4 linked regions of the Homo sapiens genome follow. The protein of the gene in region 2 purifies or fractionates together with the protein of the main gene of each other region. This does not show direct contact. Each region holds a gene or a part of one and is shown on either strand. Other genes may lie near its edges.

Evidence for each region.
Region 1: the proteins of ANXA8 (region 2) and ECHDC3 fractionate together in Homo sapiens (co-fractionation; one large-scale study listed by BioGRID). This does not show direct contact.
Region 3: the proteins of ANXA8 (region 2) and NAMPT fractionate together in Homo sapiens (co-fractionation; one large-scale study listed by BioGRID). This does not show direct contact.
Region 4: the proteins of ANXA8 (region 2) and MMAB fractionate together in Homo sapiens (co-fractionation; one large-scale study listed by BioGRID). This does not show direct contact.

The regions. Positions count from the first base shown.
Region 1 is NC_000010.11:11,761,976-11,764,570, forward strand, and holds the end of ECHDC3 (enoyl-CoA hydratase domain-containing protein 3, mitochondrial precursor), read left to right. Parts: intron 1-1,248; coding exon 1,249-1,569; 3' UTR 1,570-2,095; downstream 2,096-2,595. UniProt on the Homo sapiens protein: May play a role in fatty acid biosynthesis and insulin sensitivity.
Region 2 is NC_000010.11:47,465,142-47,473,357, forward strand, and holds the end of ANXA8 (annexin A8), read right to left. Parts: intron 7,880-8,216; coding exon of another isoform or gene 7,821-7,879; exon of another isoform or gene 7,058-7,820; intron 7,051-7,057; coding exon 6,992-7,050; intron 6,244-6,991; coding exon 6,121-6,243; intron 3,766-6,120; coding exon 3,706-3,765; 3' UTR 2,852-3,705; downstream 1-2,851. UniProt on the Homo sapiens protein: This protein is an anticoagulant protein that acts as an indirect inhibitor of the thromboplastin-specific complex, which is involved in the blood coagulation cascade.
Region 3 is NC_000007.14:106,269,299-106,277,702, reverse strand, and holds part of NAMPT (nicotinamide phosphoribosyltransferase precursor), read left to right. Parts: intron 1-523; coding exon 524-680; intron 681-2,653; coding exon 2,654-2,757; intron 2,758-5,044; coding exon 5,045-5,173; intron 5,174-8,390; coding exon 8,391-8,404.
Region 4 is NC_000012.12:109,562,488-109,568,398, forward strand, and holds part of MMAB (corrinoid adenosyltransferase MMAB precursor), read right to left. Parts: exon of another isoform or gene 5,816-5,911; coding exon of another isoform or gene 5,768-5,815; intron 5,090-5,767; exon of another isoform or gene 4,867-5,089; intron 4,681-4,866; exon of another isoform or gene 4,541-4,680; coding exon of another isoform or gene 4,524-4,540; intron 2,690-4,523; coding exon 2,632-2,689; intron 1-2,631. UniProt on the Homo sapiens protein: Converts cob(I)alamin to adenosylcobalamin (adenosylcob(III)alamin), a coenzyme for methylmalonyl-CoA mutase, therefore participates in the final step of the vitamin B12 conversion.

The sequences.
Region 1 (2,595 bases), about 36 Mb from region 2:
TAATCCTAGCACTTTAAGAGGCCAAGGCCGTGGGGTCACTTGTGCCCAGGAGTTCAAGACCAGCCTGCGTAATATAGTGAGACCCCATCTTGGAAAAAAAAAAAAAAATCCTGTCCTACTGGAGTTTACATGCTACAAAGGACATACACTATAAACAAACGTGAAATATATAGGGTGTTAAATGGAGAGAAGTGCAAAAGATTTAAAATGTAGCCAGACGGGAGTCGCATCAGGGTTCGTTTTACACTTGGAGCAGGGCGGCCATGGAAGACCTCAGTGATAGGGGATGCAGGACCAGAGGCCTGCAATGAGGGCGTGTGCCAGGATGACACCCAGGGAAAAGTCACCCCAGGCAGAGGGACCAGCGAGTCCGAGGACCCTGAGGTGACGGTGCATGGGCGTATTTGAGGAACATCAGGGATGCCACCAGGATTGTGAGAGCCTGAGTGACGGGTGGGGAAGGGAAGGGCCCCTGCCTGTGTGTCCTTGTGCACCTGGGGACCCCTCTTTTCCATTTTAAGTTTGACTTTAGAGGAGCCAGGCTTGGTAGCGTGCAACAGAATTGGTTGGTGCAGCACGCAGTGGTTGTGAAGCAGAGGACACGGTGAGGAGGGAGGGAGCTGGGCTCCCCCGCTCTTCACCAGCCCTGGAACCTCAGGGGAGGGTAGTAGGAGGGGAGAGGGCATCCTTTCCTTGCCACATCTTACCGATTGGTGAGTTAAAACCATGCTGGGCTCTACGTCTGGTCCCCAAAGACATTGTCTGTAAATCCTTGCCTCTCCGGGAGGCTGGGTCTGCTCTTTCCAGTCAGGCCAAGGTGACAGCCCCGTGACTGCTTATTGTGGGAGGTGGCCCCAGTGGGTTCTGAGAGGTACTGGAACCCCCACTCCCCGCCACCCCACCCCCATACTGCAGTGTCTGTGGGGCATCCCATCTGATGTGGCTGCCGTCCTGTGCTTGGCCCTCAAAAGAGGTAGACGAAATCCCCAGCCGTGGCAGGGCTCAGTGACCAGATCTTTGCAGGAGCAAGAGAACACGGGACAGCCACTGCTCCCCTGGGCCTGGTGTGGTTTCTTCGCTCTTGGAAAGATCCGCTCTCCTCCCGGGCAGGAGTTAGGGCACTGAAGACGTCAGGGCTGGCGGATGACGTGGTATTTGAGGAAGCAGGTCATTGAGCCGAGGCGGGACTCAGGTGGCGGGGGCGGGTCACAGGAGAGCACCTCAGTGACATCCCGTGTCTCCCCGTAGGTGGCCTTGGAGATGCTCTTTACTGGTGAGCCCATTTCTGCCCAGGAGGCCCTGCTCCACGGGCTGCTTAGCAAGGTGGTGCCAGAGGCGGAGCTGCAGGAGGAGACCATGCGGATCGCTAGGAAGATCGCATCGCTGAGCCGTCCGGTGGTGTCCCTGGGCAAAGCCACCTTCTACAAGCAGCTGCCCCAGGACCTGGGGACGGCTTACTACCTCACCTCCCAGGCCATGGTGGACAACCTGGCCCTGCGGGACGGGCAGGAGGGCATCACGGCCTTCCTCCAGAAGAGAAAACCTGTCTGGTCACACGAGCCAGTGTGAGTGGAGGCAGAGGAGTGAGGCCCACGGGCAGCGCCCAGGAGCCCACCTTCCCCTCTGGCCCAGCCACCACTGCCTCTCAGCTTCAACAGGTGACAGGCTGCTTTCGTGACTTGATATTGGTGTCATAGCATTTGGCCTACATTAAAAGCCACAATTTCATGGGGAAAGGACAAAATGGAGAGTGACTGAGGTGCTGACCTCAGTGCAAGGCTGGTGAACCCTGCAGCGGGCCAGCTATGGTGGGAAGCCTGGCATTTGGGGTGCTCCTTGCAACGTCTTAAGCAAGCGACCCCCCGACATAGCAAAAGGTGGCAACCCATGGAGGCAGAAAGAAGGACGCCAGCCTGACCCTTATCTGAAACGTCCTAAGCAGAGTTAATCCTGGCTGCTCAGGAGAGGCGACACATTTCAAATCTCCACGAGATATTCTCCACACAGAAAATCTTCTTGATTCTATAGAGACTTAATCATGCCTATGGCTTTGAATAATCTTATGTGATTTAAATAAATTAAATCTTTATAGAGACTGGTATGTTTTATCTCCCCAGCTACACTGCAAGCTGTCTAAGAAAAGAAAAAAAAATCAATTAACTGTTTTTGTATGCTCACGCTGATGGCATAGAGTAGGTGCCTCCTATTTCTATAACAAATGCCCTTGTTATCCACGTTTTTGTGAAACCCGGACCCCAGGCTCAACCTGAGGATGAAAACACTGGGGAGAGGAGGTGGGGTGCACACATCCTACGCATTAAGAGCACCTCCTCCCGGCTGGGCGCTGGCTCCCGCCTATAATCCCAGCACTCTGGGAGGCCGAGGCAGGTGGATTACCTGAGGTCAGGAGTTCAAGACCAGCCTGACCAACATGGTGAAACCCGTCCCTACTAAAAATACAAAAATTAGCCAGGTGCAGTGGCGTGTGCCTGTAATCCCAGCTACTTGGGAGGCTGAGGCAGGAGAATCGCTTGAACTCAGAGGCGGAGGTTGCAGTGAGCCGAGATGGTGCCACTGCACTCTAGCTCTGGGGCG
Region 2 (8,216 bases):
TCACTGCAATCTCTGCCTCCCGGGTTCACGCCATTCTCCTGGCTCAGCCTCCTGAGTAAGCTGGGACTGCAGGGGCCCGCCACCATGCCCAGCTAATTTTTTTGTATTTTTTAGTAGAGACAGGGTTTCACCGTGTTAGCCAGGATGGCCTCGATCTCCTGACCTCGTGATCTGCCCACCTCGTTCTCCCAAAGTGCTGGGATTACAGACTGAGCCACCACGCCTGGCCCCTCTAAATCCTTTCTAAAGAGTTTTGGCAGAAAGCAGCTAGGCAATGGCTCAGAACTGAAAGCAAGTCTGCACACAGAGCAGGACTTGAACTGAAAGAAAGGAATAAGAATTCTCACCCAGGGCTGGGATCCAAGAGACGCACACTGATACAACTACTAAAAGGTTGTTAAACTCCCGAAGGGCCCCTGCCTTGCTGTGTTACAGTCTGATTGTGTATTGTTGAAGCCCTTACCCCCAGTTTGCTGGTGTTTGGAGATGAGCCTTTGGAAGCTAATTAGGGTTAGATGAGGTTATGAGGGCGGGGCCCTCATGATGGTATAGTGATCTTATGAAAAGAGCAGGAGAGAGAGAGAGAGCTCTTCCCCCCGTGAACACGTGTAAGCACAGAGGAAAGGTCATGGGAGGACGTGTCAAAAAGGCAGCCGTCCGCAAGCCAGGAAGAGGCCCTCCCCAGGAACTGAATTGATCTTAGACTTCCCAGCCTCCAGAACTGTGCAAAATAAGTGTCTGTTATTTAAGCCACCTATTTATGGTATTTTGTATGTCAGTCTGAAAAGACTAAGACATGTTGGTGAATAGCTGCTGCACCCCCAACACCCAGGAGCCTCCCCTGGGGCCCCACAGACACCCTGCCATCCAGCACTAAGGGTTGAGGCCTGGCCCTGCAGGGGCCGCTACTCGAGCTCTGCTCCACCCCTGCAGACAGCAGCCATTCAGGTGAGTGGGTTGTGCTGCACCAGTTGTTAAATATTCTGAGCACCACTTGTGGTGGATTTAAAAACAGTCCCCAGATTCGTTGACACTCTTCTCATTGACAGATTGGGTCTGTGTCCCCTTTCCTTGAAGCTGGGGTGGCTTGTGGTGTCTTCAACTGATAGGGCACCGGGGAAGTGATGCCATGTGACTCCTGACGCTAACTCACAGAAGGCAATGTGGTGTCCTTCTTGTCCACTGGGAGACGGTGGAGCCCTACCACTTGCTACCCTGAGGCCACCATGCTGGAGAAGCTACGTGTAGGAGTGCAGGGGACAGTCCCAGTTGAGCCTGGCCTTCCAGCCATCTCACCAGGGGCCCAACATGTGAGTGAAGAGGCATCCAGATGGTTGCACCCCTCTGCCCTAGAGTCACCCAACCTTCAGGTCTTCCCAACTGAGACTGAGTCCCCTTACTTGTTGGGTCAGAGACAAGCACCTTGCTGTGCCCTCCAGAACTGCTGACCCACAGAATCTGTGAACATTATACATGAGGATTTTATGCTACTGGCTCTGGGGTGGTTCGAAAGGCAGCAGTTGTAACTGGGAGCCCACCCTGTATAGAAATGTGAGGAAACTGAGGCTCAGAGAGTAAGTGACTCAGTCACTGATATAGTTTGGATATCCCCTCCAAATTTCATGTTGAAATGTGATCCCCAGTGTTGGAGGTGGGGCCTGGTGGGAGGTGTTTAGGTCAGGGGGCGGATCCCTCATCGCCTGATGCTGTCCTCACCATCTTGAGCTCTAACAGGATCTGGCTGTTTAAAAGTGTGTGGCACCTCCCCCCACCTCTCTTGCTCCCACTCTCGCTACGTGATGTTGGCTCCCCCTTCACCTTCTGCCATGACTGTAAGGTCCCTCCAGAGGCCTCCCCAGAAGCTGAGCAGATGCCGGCACCATGCTTCCTATATAGCCTGCAGGACTGTGAGCCAATTAAACCCCCTTTTTAAATAAATTACCCAGACTCAGGTATTGCTTTATGGCAACACAAGAATAGCCTAACACAGTCAAAGTCATGGAGCTGGTGCAGGGCAGAGCCAGAATCTGCCTCCCGTCCAAGTGAATTCAGAGCCCACGCTATTCCCATCTCCCTGATCAGGCTGGTTCCTGGGCACACGCTTACCCCTCAGGGCCACTTGAGGGGAAGTTTGCAAACTGGAGCATGTTCAGGGGTGATGGCCCCAAACAGGCTCCAGGAGGGACCACTGAAGGGACTGGGGACACTGGGCTTTGACAGAGGTCATCGCAGAATTTGTGGGCCTTCTTCAGATATCCAAAATGTTGTTACTGGGAGGGAATAAGTGTTGTGGCCCTAGATGGCAGAGGTGTGGGCTTGATGCGGCTGATTTTGGTTCAGGTAAAGCAAGAACTTTGCTGGTCACATCCATTGGAAAAAGATTGGGCTGTCAAAGGACGCAGTGAGTCCCATCTTTGGAGGCAGCCAAGTGCACCCGGAGTACTCAACTGCACCCTGAGTATCGCCAGTACACCCTGAGTACCCAAGTGCACCCCAAGCACACCAAGGACCACCCCTGGGTGGATGCCAAGGGGGTAGTCAGGCCACAGGTTGGAACAGCACCAGCTGACTTTAAATCCCTCTCTAACCCTGAGATACAAGGATGTAGCCTACACATCAGGAGGTGAATAGAATCTACCCTCATTTGCAAGAGTTGTCCCCAGGGCAGCGGTGGCTGCAGCCCATCCAGTGTTCCCACTGGGAGATGCCCATGAGGTGCTCAGGTACAGCCCATCCAGTGTTCCCACTGGGAGATGCCCACGAGGCGCTCAGGCTTCGTGGCTCCCCAAAGCTCTGTTTCTGACAAATTAAATTGGTCCTACACTGGTCCCTGCTAAACATCCAAAGATACTTTGAGTTGAATACAAATCTTTATTATTTTGAAAACCACAGCAAAGGCACTTCAGAATCTCCAGGTACCCAGTCTCAGTTGCCGTTCAGTGGGGACAAGAGTGGTGCTGAGGGCATGGTCACACCCTTCTGTGCTGCATGCAGAGGGGTGCAAGGCCAGGGCAGCTGACCTGGTCAGCCACCAGGGGAGCCCACGCCTCTTATAACACAGTGTCCTTGGGTCAGGAATTTGTAGTTTATTTTGTTATTAAGATGGCGAGAGAATTTTTCGTCCATTTAGAGCCTAACATTTTTAGATGAATGTTAATGGCATCTCGGTTGGGATGGATTCGTGTTCGTTTCTCAGCTGCTGAAGGATGTGTGTTCTAAAACAAAAGGGCTCCCAGCCAGCTCTCCGGCTGCATGATAGAGAAGTGTTTTGTAAGACGCTTGTTAAAAACCCATATTCCCTGGCCCCTCTTGTGGAGACCCTGTTTCAGTAGATGGGAATGGGGCTGGGGTCTGTATAACCTGTGCCCAGGAGACTCTGTGACCAGCTTGGGAAGCTCCTGCAGGGAGGAAGGAATGATCCACAAGTCCCCAAGCCCTTCATGCTGAGGCATCTGTCTGGCTGGAGAAACACTAAGGTTGGCATTGTGCTCACACTGGGAAATGACCTGGAGGAAGTTGGGAAGAGGAGTCCAGGCCGGTTCCACCCTCTGGGTCAGAAACCCGGCTGGAAAGCACTGGAAATAGGGAAATAGAAGACCGAAAGGCTGGGACCCCCCTCACACCCAACCTGCGTCCATGGCCGAGGTTGAGTGAGGAGTCCTGGAGACTCTGGCTTCATGGTCTTTGCTCTTGTTCTTCTGTGCCTCAGGGGTCGCTGCCCACCAGGCTCAGCAGGGCGTTCTTGTAGTCACCGCTGGTGTCTTCCTGTGGGCAGGAGGCGCATAAGCGTGAGAAGGGGTTTGCTTGTGCCTGGCTCGGCAGTGGCGGCTGTGTTATTATGACTAAGAGGTGTGCCCCTGGCCTGCACCTGGCCCGGCCCTCCAGGGTTCCTAGCCGCAGGGGTTGTGCCATCACCCCTCTTTCCTTGTTTTTAATTTCAGGCTATTCCTTTACATTTCCTTTTGATTCTCTTACCAACTACATGCAGGATTGATGTGGAAAATGAATCAGAGACAGTTCCACTCCTAAACAAGGAAGGGGTCAGCTGTCCCAGGGTTCTTCTATTCGGGAGCCAGGGTGCCCAGCCATTCATTTACACAACAGGATGCATCATTATTCAACACCTGCTGTGGCAGCTTGGGAATCAAGGCTGAGAGTGAGGCATCAGCACACACCTGGGGGCAGGGCCGGGGGTGGAGGGAGCCTGGACCATCGCACCCTGACGGTGTGGCCGAGGCAAGCCCCTTCACCTCTGTGGGACTCATCTATGAAATGAGATCAATGCTGTGCTGCTGTGCATCTTGCTGAGACGTGGTGAGGGTACAGCAGGAGGAAGGCGAGCTGGTCTGCCCTGCATCTGGCTCACATCGGGTCCACAGTGTTTGTCTCCTGATGAGACTGACCTTGTGGTCCGATGACTGAGGAGCCCTGTTTCTTAGATAGTGGTAGGTCCTGATGGGACTGGCTAGTCCGGGGTCTGCATACAGAGCTGGGAAATGGGCCAGGTCAGATCACCCAGATTCTTCTTCATGCAGTTGAGGACAGCGGGGCCAAGAGAGGGGAGTGAATTCATTCACAACGGCATGGTGAGTAAGGGGTAGACTGGGGCTAGACCCACTTTCCACACTCTGGACCAGTTTAGGTCTCATGGTTATTGTCTACTTTTCACCATTTAGTAAAATTTGCCTGTTTTGAGCCTGAAATCTCATTACGGGTTTCAAACTACAATGAAATTTTTTTTAACTTTTTCCTTTCTAGACACGATCTCACTCTGTCACCCAGGCTGGAGTGCAGTGATGCAGTCCTAGCTCACGGCAGCCTTGGACTCCTGGGCTCAAGCGATCCTCCCGCGTTGGCCTCCCAAAGCACTGGGATTACGGGTGTGGGCCACTACGCCTGGTGATTTTTATTATTTTGAGGACAATTTTTCGAATAGTTTTTAGAAAGAAAAGCATTAATTTTGTTTACTTTTTCAAATACATGAGTTATACTTGGAGTGTTTATACATTTGCCTCTTAATTTCAATGCAGGAGTTTTTAACTCATATTAGTGTTGAAAACCATTTTTGCTTTAATGACATCTGTGGTCTACACTAAAAAGAAACGTTTGGTCAATGTATTCATGATTCTAACTCAATTTTCTTAAGTAACAACATTAGATAAAATTTGAAGAGGGTGGCTTCATGTATCTGTAGAAATCTCTCTGATGCCGTAAGTTACCATGTGTGGTTAAAAGGGTTAATGACAATCAGCTCAGACTGTCTGCAGGTGACAGCACAGTCCAGGCTGGTGTGTGCCTTGCCCTCCTGTCTCCCGACAAGATTGGCTGGGGAGCCTCAAGTGAAACCAAGAATAATTCCAATCCTCTCTTGCCCCTGCCCACCTGTTTCAAGATGTTGCCATCTTGAAACATCTGGAAACAGAAATGTCTTTTCCACCTATTGTCAGCTATGTGTTTCTTGAAAAGTGCACTTAACAACGACATTTGCAGAAGAGCTAGAGACTTGACTTAGTAGCCAAAGAAAACTTGGGGATACATTTGTCCTAATGTGACTTCTGCTAATGAAATCATCAAGACCTCAATTTGCAGACACCCCCAGAAGAGCTGTTTCTCCCAATTATCGCAGCGTGATAATCAGTCTGTGTTTTGAAGGCTCCAGAACTTTTGCTAATTGGAATCTGGTTAGATAGTCTATTGGCGCTCATCTGACTTATCTCCTTAGAAGTTGGCCGCCAGGACTACTTAAATCTGGATTTGAGCGGTGGGCCCGATTCCTACCGGACTAGTTCATCTCATTGACTTTTCAGAGGTGGCTTCTTCTGCAAGGATTTGGTGTCTTTTCCAAGGAGCAACCATAACTTAAATGTGAAACCAACTTTCTGAGTGGGACACAGGGGAGCCTCTGTGCCCTGGTCTCTGCATCTCCCCTCTGCCCCCCATTCCCCTTGGGATCCAGCCACACTGACCTCTGCTGTTCCCTGCACACACCACATGGTCATGAATGCAAGCACATGGTGCCCACTGGGAAGGGAGGGGCTCACGTAGTGTTGGCCACAGCCTCCAGGTTTCCCTGAATGTCTGGGTTTCAGGCTGGCCTCAGCATTGGGAATGCCTGCTTACCATGATCATGCTGCTGAGGGTCTTGCCGTACATCTTCTTGAAGTGACATTTGATAAGATTTAAGTCAATCTCGCTCCTTGAAACGATGTTTCTTATCAGGGTCCCATCACGCGTCCCTGCTCCCTGGGCAAGACAGCAGCCATCAACAATCCTGCCTCACCTTTCCTGTCCATCTCTGAGTGATGGACGGATCTGTGTGGTTGGGTTCTGGGGCTTTTAGAGGGAGGGAGATGTGGGAAGGAGCCTGTGCTTCAGCCAGGGAAGCATTAGGAGGGAAGCTTTGGTGGCTTAGGGTGTCCACTCCCTTAATTCCTTCTCACCCACTGCCCAGAACTCTTCCTTTATGATGCCAAGTGCTCCAAACTGCAGTATGTTTGGTTTGCCACATCAGATTCTAGACACAAAATACTCACTGCTCCAGGAACAAGACTTCCTACTAGAGCAATGGCAGCAATCAGCTCAGCCAGGAATTTCACAGGCAGGGCCTTCCTGCTCACCTTCATCCCTGACCAGTCTCATGTCAGCTGGGGCCACATGGCCAAGGGAATCGCATGCCCTCTCTCATTTCCTGGGCAGAAGTGGCCAGAGGGCTTGGGTTTCGGGTGTGGAACTAACTTCAGGGGATATCAGCAACCATCAATCAGAGAAAACGGGCAATGGTTTTAGTTTCAGGGAATTATTCACCTCTGGAGATGCAGCGTCCCTTTCCCAGACTCAATTTCACCTCCGAGAACTAAAACCTTTCTGATCCACGACAGGTTTGGGTAAGATAACTCCCCCGTGTGGAGGATCGTGGTGGCTTTGAGCTCCTTGGCTTTGCACTTGGTGCTATGTAGGGTGAGCGTCAGGAAGAAGAAGACAGGACAGTTACCTTCATGGCATAGTAGAGTCTCTCTGCAAAGTAGCTGTGGAGGTTTTGGGTGCATTTCACTGGCAAACAAGAAAGCTGTGTTAATGTCTGGAGCTGGTAGGTGGCACTGCCTACAACTTTATGTCTTGCCTTAGGTCTTAAGAGTCAGTGTTGTGCAAGGCTTGGCATATTTCTTTGTTCCGTGCCTTTCCCAATGTGAGAGGCTTTGTGTCAGGTGGCGTGGGACAGGGAAGGTAGCCCGGGGCACTGGGCACAGCTCCAAAGGCCCAAGCAGGCAGGCAAAAGGGTAAGATGTGAAATGCACCAGACTGTGGGGCTCGTCTGAAGACACCAGCTCAAGCCCATCCAAGGGCAGCTCAGACTCAGGACAGGCCCTGGGCTCTCAACCCAGAGACACCTCCACCAAAAATCCAGCCTCTCAGCTCCACAGAAGCACCATGGGATGGTGGCTGCTGGCCTCAGAGTGCCCTCTCTCTCACACTTATCAGCAGGAACCCTGCATTTTGAATTCCCATGTGACAAGTGGAGTTTGGCCCCACAGGACTAAGGCACCTGGGGGCGTCTGGTCCAGAGACTGGGCCCATGCTTGCTCCCATGGGTACTGCTCAGAGACTTGGCATCTGGGTGGGGAAGGTTGGCATTTTCACTTAGGGCTGCAGAAGGAGCATGGGCTTTGAGTGAGGTAGGCATGTGTTCACTTCCTGCCTTGATGGTGCAGTATGGCTTCATTACTCAACCTCCCTGACTCATCTGGGAAGTGAGACTGATGCGAGGCTTCAAGGTGAAGTGAATAGGAAGGCCCAGCATGACGGAGCACTGCATGGCTTCACTATTCCCTGCTGGCAGACTTCATTCTTGGTGGGTTCAGGCCAGATCCAGGGGTGGAAGCTGAGATTGGAGCAGGGGTGTGATTAGATGTCCTGACATAGACCGGATTGTATCACAGCATCCAAGGCCAGCTGGGGTGTCTCAGATGGCCCTGTCCACCCAGAGAGGCTAGGAAACAGCAGGGAGCCTGCTGGCTGCTGGCTTTGCACGGAGGCAGCCTGGTGTGGAGGTGAGAGCTGCAGGCCAGGAGTCCGGACCTGGGCTCTGTGTGTAAGTGGGAGAAGAGACGTCCCTCTGCCCTGGGCCTCAGCTCTTTACTCTGCAGTGACTCTTCCCATTGTGATCTCAGCCCTGGAACCCATGAGAGCTCTGGAGTGGGTCCTCCTGAGTGGCCCTG
Region 3 (8,404 bases), on a different chromosome or scaffold from region 2:
CTTTGCTGCCACCGCCGTTGCTGTCATCCAGGTTTTCATAGTGTCACTGTGAAGGCTAAAAGTGATCATCCTCAGTACCTCATTGTACAAGTAAAGTAGTCATGTTAAGTCATTGACTTTTGGAACATACCACATTGAGATATTAGCAGTACCAAATTCTGCTGTCTTTCAGTTCATTCCTTTCTGTTGTGTGTGCCCATTAGGCAGCTGCTTCTCTCTCTCTTCGCCTGGATGAAGGACTGTTCCCCAAAACCAAATGAAATACTTTTCCAACCTAGAGGCCTTGTAGTAGATTTAGTGTGCTTGTATGTAAAATTTAACGCTCTCCTGTGGTTTTAAGATACTGAACTCTGAAAATATCTTAGATACTTATTTTTTATTTGGTATAGCCAGGAAAAGAAACTGGTTAATAGCAAACAAGAAATATAGTTTCTCTGGTTTTGAAATAACTTCAAGCCTTTTCTGTTGTGATTTATAGTCTACTCATCGGTGTTTTCTAACAGAAGTGTATTTCTTTACATAGGTTACTCACTATAAACAATATCCACCCAACACAAGCAAAGTTTATTCCTACTTTGAATGCCGTGAAAAGAAGACAGAAAACTCCAAATTAAGGAAGGTGAAATATGAGGAAACAGTATTTTATGGGTTGCAGTACATTCTTAATAAGTACTTAAAAGGTATTACTTTTCCTAGTATATTTTAAACACTGCTTATTACTCTTAACTCCTTTAGGAGTTCTTTTAGAATTTTTAACAAATCTGTTAATTTGGATGCATTAAATCATATAATTTGGTGTGTGTTTGATGTTCTAAGTATGAGAAAAGTTTTCTGAAATAAAAGGTTTTTTTTTTTTTTTGGAAACCGAGTTTCGCTCTTGTTGGCCAGGCTGGAGTGCAATGGCATGATCTCAACTCAGCGCAACCTCCGCCTCCTGGTTTCAGGCAATTCTCCTGCCTCTGCCTCCCGAGTAGATGGGATTACAGGCATGCACCACCACACCCAACTAATTTTGTGTTTTTAGTGAAGACGGGCTTTCTCCATGTTGGTCAGGCTGGTCTTGAACTCTCGACCTCAGGTGATCCACCTGTCTCGGCCCACCAAAGTGCTGTGATTACAGGCGTGAGCCACCACTCCTGGCCGAACTAAAAGTTTTGAAATAAGTTTAGAAAAGTCATTAATTTTTGGAGGCTAATCTTGTTTGTTATACTTTAGTCATTAATTCAAAGTAAAGGAGTTGTTAATGAACTGGAAACTCCTTTTGAATTATGGTAGCAATCAGAATATTTTTATATTAGCCAGTTTTACCTTGAAGACCTATTTTTAAAAACTACCTGTGTCTCTGGACTTAGTTGCAAATGCATATTAAAACAAAAATCCCCCAATTTCTGTGCTTTCTTATTTGAAAGGCCATTTCTAGGGGGAAAACAGTTCCCAAACACATTATACATGTTGGAAAAGTTTATCTCTAACCTTTTGAATTAAACAATTTCAGAATTGAAAACAGTAAGGTGAATTTTAGGCCAATAACTCTTTTCTATAATCTTGACTCTTTTAAGATTAGGCAGTTCAGATAGTCTTATACTACTGAAAACCTAGCTAGATATCAGAAGTAATTATTAGTGGCAAGAATACCAAAGTTAATACCAAAGTTTTTTTGTTTTGTTTTGTTTTTAGACAGGGTCTCACTCAGTCACCCAGGCTGGAGTGCAGTGGTGCAATCTTGGCTCACTGCAACCTCTGCCTCCCAGGCTCCAGAGATCCTTCCTGCTCAGCCTCTCAAGTAACTGGGACCACAGGCTCGCACCACCATGCCTGGCTACTTTTTTATAGTGACAGGGTCTCACCATGTTGACCAGGCTGGTCTCAAACTTTTGAGCTCTCAAGCGACCCGCCCGCCTTGGCCTCCCAAAATGCTGGGATTACAGACATGAGCCACCACGCCTGGCCCCAAGATACTTTAAACGAGTTTACTAGTTATCTTGTATTAAGTTACCAGCAACTGATAGCACACTTTAATTTAGTCATACAACTTAAGAACTTTGTAAAATATTACTCATTTTTAATTATAACTAAAATGTATTGATTACCTATTCTAGGCCAGCATTATTGTAAGTGGTTCGTATGTCTTAACTCATTTTGTCCTCACAAACATCATATAAGTGGGTACTCGACTTTTATCCTCATTTACGGATAAGAAAAGTTAATTAAAAGTGTGTTGTTTGGGGGGCAGACATTTAGTAATTGTGGAAATTACTGACTTACCAACCCTAAAGATGCCACATTCTTTACGAACGAAGTGAGACGTTTCATTTGGATGTAAGAAGCTTTTGAGTCATCTCAAAGTTGAAAAGTACCAAAATTAATCGAGAGAAAAAAATTAAGTTAATATCATTTTTAAAAGCTGTGCAAGTAATAATTTTTTCTATTACACATCTGCTTTTACAATAAATAAACATTTATACTTTGAGTTATTAAAAGTACAAATTCCTTTTCTGACTCTGCTGTTGACTCTGGGTGAGCATTTAACCTCTTAGTTATATTTTTAATCCATAGAATGGGTGAAATAGCCAAAGATATTAAGTCTGTGACAGTTCAGCAACTCACAGAATGCACCTTTAGAAATGTAAACAGGACATGTATATTCTTCTAGGTAAAGTAGTAACCAAAGAGAAAATCCAGGAAGCCAAAGATGTCTACAAAGAACATTTCCAAGATGATGTCTTTAATGAAAAGGGATGGAACTACATTCTTGAGGTAAAAGATGGTTTCATCTTTTGATCTGTTTTGGTTTTTCTTTCAGTTCAAAACTTCTTGCAAAGGAATTTGTTTTTGTTTTGTGTTTTTTGAGAGAAAGTGTCACTCTGTCACCCAGGCTGGAGTGCAGTGGCACAATCTCGGCTCACTGCAACCTCTGCTTCCTAGGTTCAAGCTATTCTCCTGCCTTAGCCTCCTTAGTAGCTGGGACTACAGGCACGCACCACCACACCTGGCTAATTTTTGTATTTTTAGTAGAGATGGGGTTTTACTGTGTTGGCCAGGCTGGTCTCAAACTCCTGACTTCAAGTGATCTGCCCACCTTGGCCTCCCAAAGTGCTGGGATTACAGGTGTGAGCCACCATCCCCGGCCAGAATTTGAATAAGAGATTAGAGTATCATTACAGTTCTTTTTTGTTTGTGATCTGAATATAATGGCTATTTCATAGCCATTATATATCCTTTTGAAAAGTTATATTATAGCCAATATATCCTTTTGAAAAGTTAAGGTTGACATTTTATCCCTCTCCCCGCATCCCCCATGTTAAATCATTAGCATATAGAATCTACAGCAAGTCTAAGTAATTAATAAAAATGAATTATAACTTAAATAACATTTTTGAGAAAGATAATTCATTCTTGAAAATACACTATAGGTAGGAAAGGGCATGGTTATTTGGCAATTTCAAAATGTAGGTCTGTTTTCTTGACTGAAAATAGATGCTGTGAGTCTATCACTACACATAATTCTGGGAAGTTTCTCACTGTATAGTGAGAATGGCTTGGTGCTGATCCACAAAGTTGATTTTTAGTCTTGATTGTATTATATTTATATCTAGTATGTTTGAATTCATTGCCTAAATATTAAGGCACTCAAAGACATGGTAATAGAATTATAAGAGTTAAATATCCCGTGGTGGTTTCCTTTTATTACAATGATCAGTTGGGAATGGAATCTGTTGGCGTATCTTGATGTTGAGTGTTACTTTTAAGTCTCACAAACGAAAGTTTCTTACATTGAAAAGACTGTCAAACACAGAATAATTAGAAATACTTTAACTTTCATGCCTATATGACAATACTGAGCTATACTATTTGGTACTTATGGGTCTTGAAAAAGTCAGGTAAGTACTCTGTGCTGCACTTTTCCTGTATCTTAAATAAGGTCAATAGAATCTGTGAGCTATCACCTGTACTTGCTCCATTTCTCTTCTGTGAGGTTTGTTGTAAGGATAAATACAGTAATAAGTTAGGTACTATGCTTATTACTATACTGTCCAGTGGCCAGGGCAATAAGTCGTTTGATTATATGATCAGAAAATCTTGGGGAACTAAAGGTTCTCTAGAGATAATCTGGTCTAACCCCATTTTACAAACAGAATCTGAGACCGAGAGATGGCAAGTGACTAGTCCAGGGTCTCCCCGCTGCTTTTGAGTCCAAACTAGGACCTGTAGGGCAATGTTCTTTTTGCTATACACTGTGCCTCCAGTGCTTGTATTAAACAGATTTTTCTTGTATTTAATTACCTTGTCCCAAATCACATAAATAAATTATCAGGATTTCTGAAACAGCTTGCCTTCCTAGTGAAAAGTTAGGCACAGCTCTTAGCTTTAAAAGGGAGGTACAGTGTCACATAACAAATAACCTTCAGCCTAATTTTGGAGGCAATTATTACATTAAGAGGAAGTCAGTTAAGTCATACTCGAGTGTTAATTGCCAAGATTCTGTGTTTGGCCTGTCTCATAGTTTCAGGTCCACGACCAGAATAGAGGGAACCTATTTCGGTTCTTCTGCAGGGATTTCCCTAGCTCTCCTTCTCTCTCGTTTTGTTTTCTTTTGTTCTTTAATAGCAATCCTTTATCTTTCAATCTGCAGCCTTTATTTTGTGAAAATAACGAATTTAGAATAAAGGTAGTGTTCTTGGAATACTTTTAGAATATGTTGGAATAAAGTCATCCTTTCTCATTTTCTGAAAAAGCAGGGAAGAAGCAACAGTTTGGTTTTGATGAGTTTGGAATTTTCTGCCACTTGTAGTGATAAATGTTCTTAGCAGAAGCACGTGGCAGCATTAAACTTAAAAATTAATATCAGTACGTATGTTAATAATTTTAACTAGTTTTATTTTAGAAGGATAAGGATATTCTGACTAGATTACAGTAACATCTACAATTGCAATTTCTATGACAGTAAATTTAGCTTCTATAAAACGTAAAGAACCTTTAGTAAAACAGCAGGGAATTGAGTATCATCTGTTGAATAAATAAATTTATCATTTTATCCTGCCAGAAGTATGATGGGCATCTTCCAATAGAAATAAAAGCTGTTCCTGAGGGCTTTGTCATTCCCAGAGGAAATGTTCTCTTCACGGTGGAAAACACAGATCCAGAGTGTTACTGGCTTACAAATTGGATTGAGGTAAATTGTTTTTTTAATTCTTATTTAACATTAATTGAATAAAGACCATTGAACTGAGATTACAGTTTAGAATTTGTTACTAATAAAGCTATATAATCTCCTATAATTTACTTAACCTTTCCAGGCTTCAATTTCCTCATCTATAAAATGACAGACTAAATAATCTTTAAGGTTTCTTCTAGTAGAATAGAATGTTCTGAGATTTTGTTTAAATCAAATTATTGAGAGTGATTGTTTTTAAAACCTAGTTGGCTTTCATCTAATTCATTGCCATTTTAAGTGTGTATTATTTTAGAGCAAACTTAGAAAAACAGCACATTTCTAGTAACTTACGACATTCGATGAATGATAAATGTTCAAGTTAGACTAAAGGAACTTTATTCCAACTTCTAGTAACTACTTTCTTCATTTTTCTCTCATCAGTTTAGGTCTTAGGATCTACCATCTGTTACTTTTCAGTTTCTCATCTAAATAAAACAAGATCTGCTGTTCATATTGTTTAATTTCTCAGGAAGGGTACATTTTGGGCTTTGGGTTTATACTGCGAGCCTTTTTTTTGTTTTTCTTGTATGTATACCTAAGTAGTCATATGTTTTCACATGGTCAGAGTTTTGATAATAATACTCTACCTAGCTTCTGAACAGTTTAATAATAGATTTAATCCGTGAGAGGAAATACCCTCGAAAGTTACTATAGAAATAACACCTTACTATCTGGTGGCATTTACTTAGTTCTTAGAACTGACTAATTAGTTTATCGGTTAAAGTAATTTGCTATTATATTGTAAAATAGTACATTTGAGGCTCACTTATAAAAATTGGAAAACATCGAAATATAAGAGGTCCAAGAGGGTGTTTGAAACACATTTTGCTAAGTTGACAGGAAATTAATAGACTTTTTATGGGCCATTAACTAATAATACACTCAAAAAAAAGGTACAGTTAAATAAAGGTTTTAAATAGTCTATACCGTATACTAAAACTAAATTAATATTTAGGACTGAAATAACATATTGATTAAGTACCAGCTATGTACCCAAAAAATGCTGGGCACAGAAGTTAGAGTAAGATGTTTTACTTAAAGGGCCTTTGAGTGAGAGTTGGCAATTCATTCTGAACTAACCACTAATATCATTAAGAATTAGTGCTGAGTTGGTAGCAGGAAATAGGTAATTCTGTCTAAAGGAATCATGAAATGGAAAATAAATAAGCTTTTAATAAGGAGAAGGAAGAGCTGAAGAAATGGCACAGTGTTCTTAGAATGACAGATAGTCCTATGGGGACTGCAGCATAAAAGTGAAAAATGTATAAGATAAACCTTTAGATGGTAAGCAAGGCAAGATTCTCAAATTCTGTATGAATCAGCTCCACCTCCGCCCCATGGACAGTAGATGACCGTTAATGGCTTTTAAGGAAAGATGCAACCTGGAAAAAAAGAAAAAAAACTTGTTTTAGAATGGTAACCACTGGCAATATGAAGAATAATTAGACTAAAGAAGAGAGGTAGGATAATCATGGGCATTGGCAGTGGAATTGAAAGAGTAATTTCAGAAGCAGAATGGTCAGATGTTGGAGGTGATTGGTTATAGAGTTTAAGAATTGTACTGATTTTCTATTGTGTAACAAACTACCCCAAAACTTAATGGCTTAAAGCAACTATTATTTCTCCTGATTCTGTGGTTGACTGGATGGTCGTCTGCTGCTCTTGCTTAGACTTAGGCATCTGCATTTAGCTGAGGGTTCAGCCAGGGCTGGACATCCTTTAATGGCCTCATTCCCATGTCTGGGGCCTCAGGTCAGATAGCTGGGACTACCGGGTCTCACTCCAGAAGAGGTTTCTTCAGAGCATGGTAGTCTTGGGGTTCTAAGAGAATGAGAGTAGAAGCTGCAAAACCTCTTGAAACTGGGGCTTGGGAGTCACACATGACTTTCTCCACATTCTGTTCGTCAAAAGCGAATCATAAGGACAGCACAGACTCAAGGGATAAGAAAGGAGATTCCATCTCTTGATGAGAAGAGCTGCAAAGGCCATATTTAATCAGTCACAGGAGTCTAATGCTACAAAGTAGTTTTTTAAAAAGATGACTAGATTGGCAAGTTCAAGGTTAATCTTTTTATTTGTTTTATTTATATATCACTTAGCTGGTATTCAGTAAAAGCTTGCTTTGTAAAATTTAGTTAATATCTTTTTGGTTCAGCACAGACATTGCATCATCTTAGCAGCTCTTTTTCAAACAGATTTGAAGCTGCTTCAAATAACAATCTGGTTTATAAAATGAAAATAGAAAATTATGATCTTAGAATGAAGAAGTGAATTTCTAAGCCATGATAATTATTACGGTTGCTGTGATTAGACAGACTTTTCTGTGGAGCTTCCTGACAACCAAGAAAAAAGGGGAAATCAAGGAACTGTTCTTATCAGAAAGTAGGAACCCAGCAATTCTTTCATTTTCTCATTGGGAACTTAATAGTCACTGAATTACAAAGTAGACAGTGACCTTGATTATACAACATATGCGGAAGTGTTTCCTGTAACTTACGTGAGTATTTTATCAAATACTTATATATTTGATAAAAGCTAAGTACATAAAGCATAACTCAGTAGATAGAATTCTCTAGTAGTAAGCTAAAGTGCTTCAAGTATTAGTTGTCATATTAATCCAAGAGAAAATTAGATCTGAGACTACCTCGAGGAGTAAACGAACAACTTCTTTAAACCAATACTAGTCAAAATGCAGTCCACGGACCAATGCTGGTTCATGCCCTATTTGATCCAAGTCCACATTAAGTACAGAAATGAAGAGTAAGCATTTAGAAACTTGGGGCAATTTGACATTGCCTCAACATCCAAGTTTCAGTGTCCTTTATAAACTATTGATCCATGACAGATCATGAAACTTTCTAAAAATTGATCCTTTTATCACATAGTCTTTCAAAATATTATTTGCTTCTTTGAAGCTTTGGATAGAAACTTGATAATGTGAAGTTCTCTGCTATGTGGACCTGGTGTGCTTATCTTCTTTGTTGCTGATTTGAGAGCTGAGCTATGTACTATATCTGGAATGCACACAGCAGGCATCCTGCTGCGCAGTTCTGTGTCTAGTTAATAGTATGGAAGTTCAGGACATACCTCCAAAAAAAAAAAAAAGCTAGGATTTTCCTCAGAAAGAATGCAGTATTTTATGTCTTAATATTTGTGGTTAATTTTGTTACTACAGACTATTCTTGTTCA
Region 4 (5,911 bases), on a different chromosome or scaffold from region 2:
GAGGGAGGAAAAGGCTCCCATGGGGGCAGCAGCTGGGTTAAGCAGATGACACGCATCACACACCCAGGGACAGTCAAGAGGAACCGTCTGGGCTCTGTCCACGTCTCCTGTGCACCTAGGCCCTGTGAGGTTTTCTTCTTTTCTCAACATTTGACAGCTTTGGTTTTCTAACCTGTAACAGTTGGGCCAAGAGGTCAAATGTGACAGTGCTTTCTAAACTCTAAAGGACAAGGAGCTTGGAGAATGTAGTCAGCCGAGGCGTGTGGGGATTCTGGGAGCAGGAAGCCTGGCTGGGTGAGGCCTGTGCTCTGTCCAGGTGGGGAGTGGGTTTGCTTGGAACAGAAGTGGTCTGTTAAGGTCTGCTGCAGGACTCCAGGCCCCTGCATGACAAATGTCCAACAGCTCTCATGCATGTGAAGACCACAAGTACCACCTCTGACTTTGTGCCCAGCCAGGGTCCACTCAAGCTGGATGGTGGGCTACCAGGAGGGTGAAGGTCTGCGACTTCTGACCTCTCCTAAGATGGCCACTGTGACAGCATTCAAGAAGCAGGCCATGGTGTGTGAGAGCAGAGGCTGCCCATCCAGCACTGGGCTGGAACCTTCCCAGGGCTTCTGACCAGCAGACCTTGGGCAAGCTGCTTCCCTGCTTGGGGTCTCTGCACTTTCACAGTCAAAGCGGGAGTGATAATACTACCCACTTGGTTGGCCACGTGCAGCGTGTACCCCAAGGGCTGGGGAGAAATGGCACCAGTTTGGGAATCAGATTCCAGCTCTACTGATGCCTGGCTGTGGGGGCTGGGCAAGTCAGCCTTTCTGAGGCTCAGTTTGGCTCCCTATAAGCTGTGGACATTAACTTCCACCTCACGGGTGTCTGTGAGGGTGAAATGGGTGATATGAGGAAAGCAGTGGCATTGCTGCCCGGCCTCATCCACAGGCCCTGCGAGCGGCTACCAGGCCAGGCGGGGCTCCCAGGTGAACCAGACACTGTCCCCGCCCTCACAGTGCCAAGGCTGGGTGGGAGGTGGATGGGTGAACAGGTTAACACCCCTTGTGATGCCTGTGGTTAGAGGATGTGGAAATCCAGGAGCAGTGCCTAACCCAGCTGGAGATTAGGTGGCCAGGGAAGGCCCTTGAGGAGGTGACGTGACAGCTGCGACCCAACGCGTACAGCAGACAGAAATGACCGCTGCTACCGCGGCTCCTCAGGAGGTTGAAAGCCTTCCTCCACCACACAGAATGTTCTGGCAGCTGAGGCTTCCTCCTGCAGCCACAGCCTGTGGCAGCCCCACCTACTACCCTCCGTCTGTTCCCAGGGGCCTGAGCAGGCTCCAGCCTGGGCTTCAGAACGGAAGTGGGAAGGGCTGACCCTGCGGGGAGCGGTTTCTGGGGACCTGGGTCCATGTGGAGGTGGAAAGTGCGGCACCCTGGGCATTCTGGGGTGGTGACCCTGTCTCCGTGCTTGAAGTTCTCTGCGTGGGTCAGAGGCCCCCTCCTTCTTAGGGAACAGAACAGTGACACTGTGACGCATGAGTCCCACGGGCTGAGGGCTCACTGCAGCTAGGCTTCCCAGGTTCCCTCTGCATCGGGCATGAGCGAGGCACTTCACACCGGCTTTCTCAGCCTCGGTGCTATTGCCATTCAAGGCCGGGTCATTCTTCGTTGACGGGGGCTGTCCCCTGCATTGCAGGATATTTACATGCCAGCAACACCCCCAACACCCAGATGTGGCAACCAAAAATGTCTCCAGATATTGCTCAGCGGGCCCTGAGGGGCAGAATGGCCCTGGGTTGAGAACCGTTGCATTTTAAATTCCCTCATTTAGTACAATCCTCCCCACTCGCCTGTGAAGGAAGATTATATGTCTCCAGTTGTTTGTTTTGGAGACAGAGGTTTTTTTTTTTTTTTTTTTTTAAAGACAGGATCCCACTCTGTTGCCCAGGCTACAGTGCAGTGGTGTAATCACATCTCACTGCAGCCTCAACCTGTAAGACTCAAGCGATTCTCCCACCTCAGCCTTGTAAGTTGCTGGGACTATGGGTGCATGCCACCATACTTGGCTAATTTTTAATTTTTTTTTTTTTTTGTAGAGACAGGGTCTCCCTAAGTTGCCCAGGCTGGTCTTGAACTCCTGGCTTGAAGTGATGCTCCCACCTTGGCCGCCCAAAGTGCTGGGATTACAGGCTTAATTGAACCATGGTGCTCGGCCTGAGACAGGGTCTCAATCTCTTGCCCAGGCAGGAGTGCAGTGGCATGATCACAGCTCACTGCAGCCTTGACCTCCTGGGCTCAAGAGATCCTCCTACCTCAGTTTCCTGAGTAGCTAAGGCTACAGGCATTCACCACTATGCCTGGCTAATTTTCAAATATTTTGTAGAGTCAGGGTCTTATTATGTTACCTAGGCTCCTGGCCTCAAGTGATCTTCCTGCCTCAGTCTCCCAAGTAGCTGAGATTGCAGGTGTGAGCCACCATACCTGGCCTGTCCGCATTTTACAGATGAAGAAATGGAGCTCACAGAGGGAGAGTAACTAGCCCCAGGTGACACAAAGAGTAACTGGTGGCTGGATGCTGAGTCCCGTGATGGCCACCGGGGCTGAAGATTCCCAGCTTGGGTGAGATGGTGTTACTCACTTTCTGAAGCTCTTCGGCAAATGTATGGCCCTTTTCTGTGACTAATTCCAGAGCAAACCTATGAAGAAAAAGGAAAAAGAATTTGCCTGTAATGTAATGTCCCTAGGCCCTGTCTTGCCATAAACAATAGATTCTCAGGTGGCAGGCCATTTAGTTAATTTAGCTATAATAGCCATGTTATTTTTCTTGCTAACAATAAGAACATTATAGCCTTCCATTTGGGGGCGGTGGTATTTGTTTCTTGAAATGCCTTTTCGGATGCTCATTATTTCCAGTCAAGAATTCCTTTTGAACAGCTACTCTGGCCAGGCCCAGGAGAGTCAGTGGTGAACAGAAGCTGACCCAGGCTCTCTCCAGCAAGTTGGTGACAGGGTGAGCAGTGACAGTCTCAAGTGCTGGATCCTGAGCTCTGACCCGCAGCCCTGTGGTGATAGGTGAGTGGGAACCAGACAGACCCAGGTGCAAATTCTGCACCGCTGCTGAGTGTCTCTGGGACTTCAGGCAAAGCTTACACCTTCATGTTCAGGAGCGTGATATTCAGGAGTGTGATAGGTAATCAGATTAGACATACTCCTGAATGTGAAGGTGCAAACTGAGATCAGTGCTCTGAAGGAAAGAGCAATAGAAGCCTAATCTGACCTTGGCTAGAGAGGCAGGGAGGGCTTCCTGGAGGAGGTGATGCTGGAGGGGAGACTTTGAAGGCTGGGGAGGACTTCCCTCATAAGGCAGAGAAAGCAAACTGCCCCCCGACACAGGTCAGGACCCTGGCTCTGCCTCCCTCAGAACCCTGCACTTCCCTCCTGCACCAGTCAGTGCCCCAGCAGGAGACAGTGGCGCGCTGCAGGGATTCCTGGAGGAGGGCTTTGGGAAGGGACAATTCACAGAGGTATGGGCAGAGTTTCAGGGAAATGCAGGAGCCTGAAGGGCAAGGGTCGGGGAAGGTACAACTCACCCTGGAGGGAGCTGAATTCTGGAGTCACTCAGCAGGGAGGGAGTTAGGTAGGGAGCCCAGCTGCCACCAGAGCCATGCACCACTGGGGAACAGGGTCACACACACTCATGAGCTCTCTGCACTCACTCTCCTATCACCTACTGGTGCCTCCCACTGGCTGGACCCACCTGAATGCCAGAAGACCAACGAATCGAGGTGGCACAGCCACCAGGTGATAAGGTCAGCCTCCCATGCATAAAGAGAAGGTGAAGAGAAGGGATTTGAAAGGGCCAATGGAGAATATCCAGCCCATCTTCCTGGCACATCTTACAGTTAGAACTAAACACACCAGTATGTGATTCCCGTCTGGTGTGTCTTCCCCTCTGGACCAAAGGGAGGGCTGTGCAGGCTGGGACACAGTCTGTCTCCATCATAGCGGATGCCCCATGCCTGCCTCACAGGAGGTGTGCAGAAGTACCTGCTTGCCGAGGGATGCCCCGTGACCAGGCCAGTGGCAGGCCCCACCCTGGGCACTTGCCCCAAGCCTGCTCCCACCCTCGTAGCTGCCCAGTGAGTGCTGCCTGCTCCCTGCACTCTGCAGCTCAGGAAGGTGGGGCTGAGGTTCTGCTCCCTGCACTCTGCAGCTCAGGAAGGCGGGGCTGAGGTTCTCTGTTGAGCAGCGCCTCGCACTGCAGATGCTTGGTCAATATCTGACCAAGGAAGAATCCACAACTGAGGTTTCTCCAACCTCCCGCTCCTCCTCAACTGAGAGACGATGGCTCGTGTTTTAGAGCTCATTAGAATAGCTGATGCGAGAACTGGCCTTTTCTCCCTTTGCCCACTTGGTCTTGTGTCTGCCCTCTTCTGGACCCCCTCCCACACACACCAAGGGGTTTGTTTGCCTTCTCTACCCGGCTGGCTGACTATCTGTACCTCCCATTATCTGTCCCGAAAATCTCACCTAGTCAGGCCCGCCATGGAGAAATGGTAGCCAGGAACAGGTAAGTGTTAAGAATAGTAATAATGAGGAGACTCGCTTGAACCCGGGAGGCAGAGGTTGCAGTGAGCCGAGATCACACCATTGCACTCCAGTCTGGGCAACAAGCGCGAAACTCCGTCTCGGAAAAAAAAAAAAAAGAAGAGTGATAATAGCTAACATTATTTTTACTTGTGCTAGGCACTGTCCTCAGGGTGAAACATGGAATCATCTCATTTAAGCCCCACAAGAACAGTGAGATGGGAATTATCATGATGACTACTTGACAGAACCGTAAACTGAGGCTCACAGAGGCCACGTGATTTACCTGACGTCCCAGAGACAATCAGCAGCGGTGCTGAAAATTTGCAGCTGGGTCTGTCTGGCTCCCATGCACCTATAACCCCAGGGCCCCGGGGTCAGATTTCAGGATCCAGCACCTGAGACTGTTGCTGCTCCCCCTGTCACCAGCCTGTAGGGCATGCTGGGCAGACTGTGCTCCTGCTTGCAAATATTTGCTGCCCCTCCTACCCCGCTGATGTCAGGCATGTGCACGTGACAGGCTCTGGCCGCTGAAATGTGAATAAATGGAAGGCATCATTCCCAAGAAAGGTTTGTCTTTTGGAGACAGAGTCGTACTCTGTCACCCAGACTGGAGTGCAGTGGTGCGATCATGGCTCACTGCAGCCTCAACCTCCCAGACTCAAGTGATCCTCCTGCCTCAGCTTTCTGAGTAGCTGGGACTACAGGTGTGCACCACCACGCCTGGCTAATTTTTTAACTTTTCTTTTTAGTAGAGATGAAGTCTTGCTATGTTGCTCAGGCTGGTCTCAAACTCCTGAGCTCAAGTGATTCTCCCACCTCGGCCTCCCAAAGCGCTGGGATTAGACATGTGAGCCGCTGCACCTAGTCATTTTTTTTTCAACTTTTATTTACCAACAAAGTTTAGTCTCCATAAAGACTGTCAAAAACTGCCAATGTTGACTATATTTCAAGTCATCATGGTGGGGTAGTGGGAAAAGTTTTCAATCAGCAATAATCACATCTTGGGTAAACCTCACTGGCGACAACACTGACACTGCACAATCCCCTGGCAGCGTCAGGAGCCAATGTGAGCTTCACCATGACCTCTTTTCCCTCTGCCACAATGACTGATAATTGCCCCAGGCAGCAGCTGTACTAGCAGCCTGTGTCCCAGAATGAAGGCCGCATGGAGCCAAAGAATATACCCTGTGATGGGCATGAAGTGGGAACAGCAAGTCCATCTTTGGTGTCATAAGTCAGGAGATTTTGGGGTTGTCTGTGATCACAGCATGACCTGGCCCATCCTGATCTGGTCCATCCTTGAGTCCACCTTCTAAACTTTGGCTTAT